Linked DNA regions of Homo sapiens. The protein of the gene in region 2 purifies or fractionates together with the protein of the main gene of each other region. This does not show direct contact. Each region holds a gene or a part of one and is shown on either strand. Other genes may lie near its edges.

Region 1 (3,752 bases), on a different chromosome or scaffold from region 2:
GAGTGCTCCTAACCATTGTGCTTGAGTGACAGCCTCTGGGCACAGGCACCAGGTGGAGGAGAGCACCTCACCGAGCCCCAAGAGGAGCAGAATGGCACTGCCCAAGGGAGACTCTATATCCTAGGTCTTTTTAAAGATCTTGAGTAACCTGATTAAATCCTCCCTGCATCCCTCAAGTTCCTGAGTTAGAGCCACATGTTTTCAAGGGCCAAATGGCATTCTAGAAACCTGCATATATTGCTGGTGGGAATGTAAAATGGTGCAGCCACTTTAGAAAACAGTTTGGCAGGTCCTCGAATGATTAAACATAGAATTACCACATGACCCAGCAATTCTGTTCCCAGAGAAATGAAAACGTAAGTCCACATAGAGACTTTGCATGAATGTTCATAACAGCATTACACACAATAGCCAAAAAGTGCAAACAACCCAAATGTCCATCAACTGATGAATGGGTAAAGAAAATGTGGTCTACACTGTGGAATATTATTCTGCCATAAAAAGGAATGAAGTATTGATTCATGCTACAACATGGATAAACCTTGAAAACCTCTTAGGTAATCTCATTATGCTGAATGAAGGAATCTGGTCACAAAAGGCCATATATTATGCAATTCCATTCACATAAAAATGTCCAGAACAGGCAAATTCATCAAGACAGAAAACAGATTAGTGGTTACCTAGGGCTGTGGGGTTGGGGAAGCAATGGTTGAGGGAAAATGGGGAGTGACTGCTAACGAATAGAGGGTTTCTTTTCAGGCAGTGAAAAAGTTCTAAAATTAGATAGTCGTTATGGCCTCACAACTTGTGAATATATAAAAACCACATATTGTGAATATAATAATAACTGTACACTCTAGAAAGATGACTTTTATGATATGTGTGAATTATAGCTCAGAGTTATACCCCTGTATCCATCTGTCTACTTATCTATCCAGGCAGAGAGGTACAGAGGGGTCATCCTCATCTGAAGGTACGAAGAAGAGCTGGGCCTGGCTGGTGTGAGTGGAGGTTTTCCTAGTAAATGGAGCTGTCTTTCCCGGCTGACGCCTTACCTGGTATATGAGTATTTGTTGTTACTTCTGTTGTAGAGCAACTTCACGGCTGGCTGTGGGTTGTTTTAAAAGAAGAAGAAGAGAGTTACTTGGCAGGCAGATGCAATGAACTACTAGCTTCCCATAGGGCTGGGGCCCTGCCCTGCATCAGAAGAGGCAGACAAGCATAGCTTGCTGGCTGGAGAGGGGGACCACATGACCCAATAGCAGGGGCACAAAAGATGACCTGTAGCTTCCCACTGTGAACCCATTATCAGGCCTCACTCAGGCAATTATACATGTTTTTATTTCAAAAGTTATTCAGAAGAACCTCCATCATTTCTGGTAGCAAAAGAAATTCCACAAGGGTGCCTCCAACATACCTTATTTGAAGTCGCTATAAGTTTTTGTTCTTCCTTGGATGAGGTGATCACAGGGACCTTGCAGAAAGGCTCATAAGTATCTTTGTTCTGCTGGAACAAAACATGCTTTCAGCCTAGGAGGCCTGCCTAGCACTGCATTTTTAAAGTTGACCGGCTGGACAGGCTCTGGCGAGGGGAGATGGGGCAGTCATGGCTGGGAAGAGAGAAGGATTCTCACCACCAGTGAACTAGATGGGGGAAGACAGGGAGTTGAATTTCCCAGTAAGTCTGCTCTTTGGCTATGACCATGATAGGCCAGGATGCTGAGTAAGTACTAACAATGATGACACATTTTCCACAGCCCAGGAAGCCACTCAAAAATAAACCCTTGACGTGGCAGCAGAAACGTGTTTTAATCAAAAGCTCCTAAAACCCCACTACCATGACTGCAGAGGAATTAAAAAAAAAAGCATAAACCCATAAGGGGAAAAAGAATGGGAGAAGTGAGGTCAGCAGACCAGTAAAAAAAGTCAAAAATTTGAGGGTAGAAAGGTCACAGGTGAGCGTTAACCAAGGAGAGGGGGAAAGCTGAAACCAGTGGGCGGAAGCACTGGAAAGATCCCCAAATCCATCTCCGTCCCCATGCAGGCAGAAGAAAGGGCCATCTTCCTGCAGTGGTTTGCACGGTAGAGGACAGGGCTGAGCTGCGATTCTGAAAACGGGGGGACAAGTGAACATCACACTAAGTGATGAGCAACCCCAGCTCCTTCCCCTTCCAGATCCCCAAAGGCAGCCGGCCAGGCCTAGACCCGTCAGGCAGGAGGAGAGTAGAGGATTCCTCTTCAGGAACACCACCTGCTTCCCCCAAAATGGCTTACAGATTCTGACAGTTGGGGGTCCCGCTGAAAAAGTCTGCCTTATCACCCACAATGCAGCCCAGTGGACAACAAGGACCTTCCATGCACAAACAGCTTTCAGAGTCTCTCATTCCTTCAACAGACAGCCAAGCATCATCAGATTACATGTGAAAAGCCTCTTTAACATGAGAACAAAACCAAAACAAAGACAGGAAAAGAGGAGGAGTCAGATAATGAAGGGAGAAGAAAGAAAACAAACAGAATCATCAGACAGTTGAGAGCAGATACGGCCTCCTAGGAAACAAGATGAGCACGCTGTGGAAAGCAGGGCATTCGGACAGCAAGAAAAGGCTCCTGAAGTTAGAAAGACGAAGCAGAAATGAAAATTTTGATAGAAGGGTTGAAAAGGTGAAAAATAAAACTTCTGAGAAAGTAGAACAAAAGGATAAAGCCAGAGACACTAAGAGGAAAGAATTAGGAGGTCAGTCCTGGAGGTCTAACCTTAGACTAACAGAAACGAGACCCAGGGGCATGTCTCCAAGACAAAGATGAAACAGAACCTCTGATGTGTCTGAACACACCACTATGAGACCGCTGAGAACGTGGGGCTGAAGTAGGAACATATATTTAGAAAACCAAGTGAACAAAACAATGAGGCAATCCCTAACTCTGGCAAACTTAAAGTTATAGAAGAAAGAAAATAATCACTGTACACTCTGTGGCTTAACTGTCAGCCGTATTTACACGTCATGACGTAAACTCTGAATTTAACCAAAACTGTGATGAACTGTACTGGGAGAATGGGAGAAGGAAAAGTATGCCTAAGCTTGGTGGGGGTAGAGGTAGGGGCAGTGCGTGAGCTAAATTCTAGTTTCTATAGTCATGCCAGTAGATAATGTCAAAAACTGGGAATTCAATAAAGAGCAGCACAGGCGAATTATGTGGAAACATAAATGTGAACAGAAAAAACTGCTGAAAGAATTCACAGAGGTTACTGCAAGGGTGAAGGAGAGTAGGAGGGGTATGGTGGTGTTTTGATGTTAACCTTGCAGCACTATTTGACTTCTTGAAGGATGCATGTGCATCACTTTCAACAGTGTAGTAATAATAAAAAAGTAAATGCTGCAACATTCAGTTAGGTCTGCAGTGAGTTCAGACTCTCAGAGTAGAGGTGGTGTGCAGCATTATGGGTACTGGTCCGGTGCGGGGCCAGACACAGACATGTGGTGTGGGGGAGGCCCAAACAAGGGCCTCATGCACACAGACCAGATTCCTACGAAAACCCAAAGGGATGCTTCTGATGCTCTGCCACGTTGCAACTTTGTTTGAAATAAAGGGGTGTTGGCCATGTCTAGAAGCATTTTGTTTTTGTGGGATTTTACTGTCACCAGACCTGACTCCAGTGGTCCTGCTCTGTCTAGCTAAGGAGTGAGGGGTGTCTGTCTGTAGAGATTATGCTGAGCTCCCAACAATGACTTGTGGGACTAGAGTAAGCCCTA
Region 2 (3,752 bases):
AAAAAAGGTTTTCTATTCCTAGAATTAAAGGTGATCATCAAATGAAAAGTTGTGCAAAAGAGGAAGTGCTGGATTAAAAAGTAGTCAAGGCAACCTCTTCTAGGCCATCATAACAAGACAATTTAAATTAATAAACATTTATTGAGAACTATGTACTAGCAACTAAGTTTTCATCTCTGTTCTACCAGCAGGGAATGCAAATATACTAAACACAGCTCAAAGGACTTACAATTTAGTAGGGCAAATAGACTTGTAGGAAACTATAATTCAAGGCAGAGTAACAAAAATATCAATTTACAATTGGCCTAGTTAAGTAGATTGAATTCTGGTCTGACTTTAGAATAAGCAGCAAAGCTGCTATAACAAGTAGCATTTCAACCAGGCCCTGATAATGAGGATTTCTCCGCATTATGAAAGGAATGATGGAGTGGTCTGGGGAGGGGACCATACATTCCAGGTTAAGGGACAGCATGAGCAAAGGTAGGTGTACAGATGCTTATAAGAGCAAGGGGCAGCAGGGCGTGGTGGCTCACGCCTGTAATCCCAGCACTTTGGGAGGCCGAGGCGGGTGGATCGCCTGAGGTCAGGTGTTCCAGCTTGGCCAACATAGTGAAACCCTGCCTCTACTAAAAATACAAAAACTTAGCCGGGCATGGTGGTGGGAGCCTGTAATCCCAGCTACTTGGGAGGCTGAGGCAGGAGAATCACTTGAACCTAGGAGACGGAGGTTGCAGTGAGCCGAGATTGTGCCATTGCACTCCAGCCTGAGCAACAAGAGCGAAACTCTATCTCAAAAGAAAAAAAAAAGAGAGCAAGTTACCTGGAATGGCAGTAGAACATAATGTATTGGAGAACTATAGCAAGGGATCATGGCTAAAAATACAATCTGGAGTCTCATCTTAAACAATTCTTACCATATCTTGCTAAGAAATTACAGTTTATTTAGTAGAAGATGAGATGCCAAAGCCAATGTTTTGTTTTTTGGGGTTGGGTCCTAATCTGTTGCCCAGGCTGGAGTACAGTGGCATGATCTTGTCTTACTGCAGCTTCAACCTCCTAGGCTCAAGTGATGCTCCTACTTCAGCATCCTGAGTAGGTACTCTGGGGAGAACACCACCACAACCTACAACAAGCTAACTTTTATATTTTTTTTAAAGATGGGGTCTCACTATGTTGTCCAGGCTGGTTTCGAACCCCTGGCTTCAAGCAATCCTCCTGTCTTGGTCTCCCAAAGTGCTGGGATTATAGGCATGAGCCACTTCCTGGCCTTCAGTTTTTGAGCAAAAGGCTACTTGGGTAGTAGCAACATATCCCAATCCTCACCCTCTGAGCAAGGGCACTCAGTTGGCTTGCCTGGGCTGGGGATACTGGCTCTACTACTTATTTAGCTGTGGACTTTGGACTATTTGCTTAATATATCTGTGCTTTGGTTTCCTCATTTCTTTTTTGTTTTTTTTTTTTAGACAGTTTTGTTCTTGTTGCCCAGGCTGGAGTGCAATGGCGCGATCTTGGCTCACCACAACCTCCGCCTCCCGGGTTCAAGGGATTCTCCTGCCTCAGCCTCCCAAGTAGCTGGGATTACAGGCATGTGCCACCATGCCCAGCTAATTTTGTATGTTTAGTAGAGACGGGGTTTCTCCATGTTGGTCAGGCTGGTCTCGAACTCCCGACCTCAGGTGATCTGCCCGCCTCGGCCTCCCAAAGTACTGGGATTACAGGCGTGAGCCACTACTCCGGGCCTGGTTTCCTCATTTCTAAATGGAAGTTATATAGTAGCAGTTTCTTAAGAGGTGTCAGGAAGATTAAATGAGATAAAACATGTCAAGTGCCCAAAATATCAATTAGCACAAGCCCTCAATAAACATTAGTTTACAGGCTGGGCGTGGTGGCTCATGCCTGTAATCCTAGCACTTTGGGAGGCCAAGATGGGCAAATCCCTTGAGCCCAGCATTCAAGACCAGCCTGGACAACACAGCAAGACCCTGTCTCTACAAAAAAAAAAAAAAAAAAAAAAAAATTAGCCATGTGTGCTGGTGCGGCACCTGTAGTCCCAGCTACCAGGAAAGTTGAGATGGGAGGATTACCTGAGCCCAGGGATGTTGAGCCTATAATGAGCTGCAATCACACTAAACTCCAGCCTGAGCAATAGAGTGAGACCCCATATCAAAAAAACAACAAAAACAAACATTAGTTTATAACATATGTATTACTACTTCAGCCTAGCACTACACAACCAGTAAGATAATACAAGTAGTTCCAAGAGAAGGAAGCAGCAGCAGGAACTACTGACTGTGGATCTGCTAAAATTATAAAAGGAGCAACTGCAGAATTATTGGAGATCTATGTAAATAAAACAGTAGTTTGTATAAACCCTGTGATCTTATTCTAGTTCTGAGTTTAGAAAGGTCACTTTGAGTTGCATCAGTTCATTAATGCCTCAAATTATCATTTTTCAGGGTTGCTCTCAAAAAGAACTCATATGTGATGAATTATCTTTCTACCTCTCACAATGTCTAAAATATTACACTTTGTCAATCAAACATTCAAATTTAAGTGAGTGTTTAACCCTGGGCATTTGTTAAAACTGTATGTTAGCAGAATAACACAAAGCAAAAACCTGTGATGTATGGGTCTTTGCAAGAGGAGAAGTGCATGCTTCTTGAAATTGATCTTCATTAATTCCAATTTCTTTGAGGTAACCTTCTAACAGCTTTTCAACCTAAAAAAACAAAGTTTAACTTTTATAATTACATAGAAAAATTCTACATGACAGTTTGCATATTAAGTATTTAGTTTAGAAAAGTATCATCGAATTTTTTGCAAATATTAATCTACATATTACATGACAGTGACATTGTCTTTCACCAAAACACAAATTAAAAGTTAATATTTTTGCTGAAAATCACATGAAATTGTATTTCTTCTAATAGAAATAGTTGAAGTCAGGATTATGAAGTTCAATGTGGTACAACTCTTCTGCTACCCAGAGGCATTTTTTTTTCTTCTTTTCTTTTCTTTCTTTTTTGAGATGGAGTCTCACTCTGTCACCCAGGCTGGAGTGCAGTGGTACGATCTCGGCTCACTGCAACCTCTGCCTCCCAGGCTCAAGCAATTCTCCTGCCTCAGCTTCCTGAGTAGCTGGGACTAGAGGCGCCTGCCACAATGCCCGACTAATTTTTTTTTTTTTTTTTGGTAGAGATGGCGTTGCACCATGTTGGTCAGGCTGGTCTCGAATTCCTGACCTCAGGTGATCCGCCTGCCCTGGCCTCCCAAAGTGCTGGGATTATAGGCATGAGCCACCACGCCTGGCCTTTTCTTTCTTTCTTTCTTTTTTTTTTTTTTGAGACAGAGTCTTACTCTGTTGTCCAGACTGGAGTACAGTGGCACAGTAATGGCTCACTGCAGCCTTGACCTTCTGGGCTCAAGAGATCATCCTCCCACTTCAGCCTCCCAAGCAACTGGGACTACAGGCACATGCCATCATGACTGATTAATTTTTGTAATTTTTATAAAGATGGAGTTTCACCATGTTGCCCAGGCTGGTCTCGAACTCCTTGGCTGAAGCAATCCACCTGCCTTGGCCTCCAAAGTGCTGGGATTATAGGTGTGAGCCACTGAGCCCCACTGCCAGAGGCATTTTTTAAAATCACAAGACAGGCTGGGCAGTGGCTCACACCTGTAAACCCAACACTTTGGGAGGCCCAGGCAGGTGGATCACTTGAGCTCTGGAGTTCCACACCAGCCTGGGAAAC

The links. The genes of interacting proteins can lie anywhere in the genome.
Region 1: the proteins of CFAP36 (region 2) and KCTD10 purify together in Homo sapiens (affinity purification with mass spectrometry; 2 studies listed by BioGRID and IntAct, with this or other methods). This does not show direct contact.

Annotation. Positions count from the first base shown.
Region 1 is NC_000012.12:109,456,575-109,460,326, forward strand, and holds part of KCTD10 (BTB/POZ domain-containing adapter for CUL3-mediated RhoA degradation protein 3), read right to left. Parts: intron 1,508-3,752; coding exon of another isoform or gene 1,505-1,507; coding exon 1,418-1,504; intron 1,109-1,417; coding exon 1,056-1,108; intron 1-1,055. UniProt on the Homo sapiens protein: Substrate-specific adapter of a BCR (BTB-CUL3-RBX1) E3 ubiquitin-protein ligase complex. The BCR(BACURD3) E3 ubiquitin ligase complex mediates the ubiquitination of target proteins, leading to their degradation by the proteasome.
Region 2 is NC_000002.12:55,522,688-55,526,439, reverse strand, and holds part of CFAP36 (cilia- and flagella-associated protein 36), read right to left. Parts: intron 2,720-3,752; coding exon 2,618-2,719; intron 1-2,617. UniProt on the Homo sapiens protein: May act as an effector for ARL3.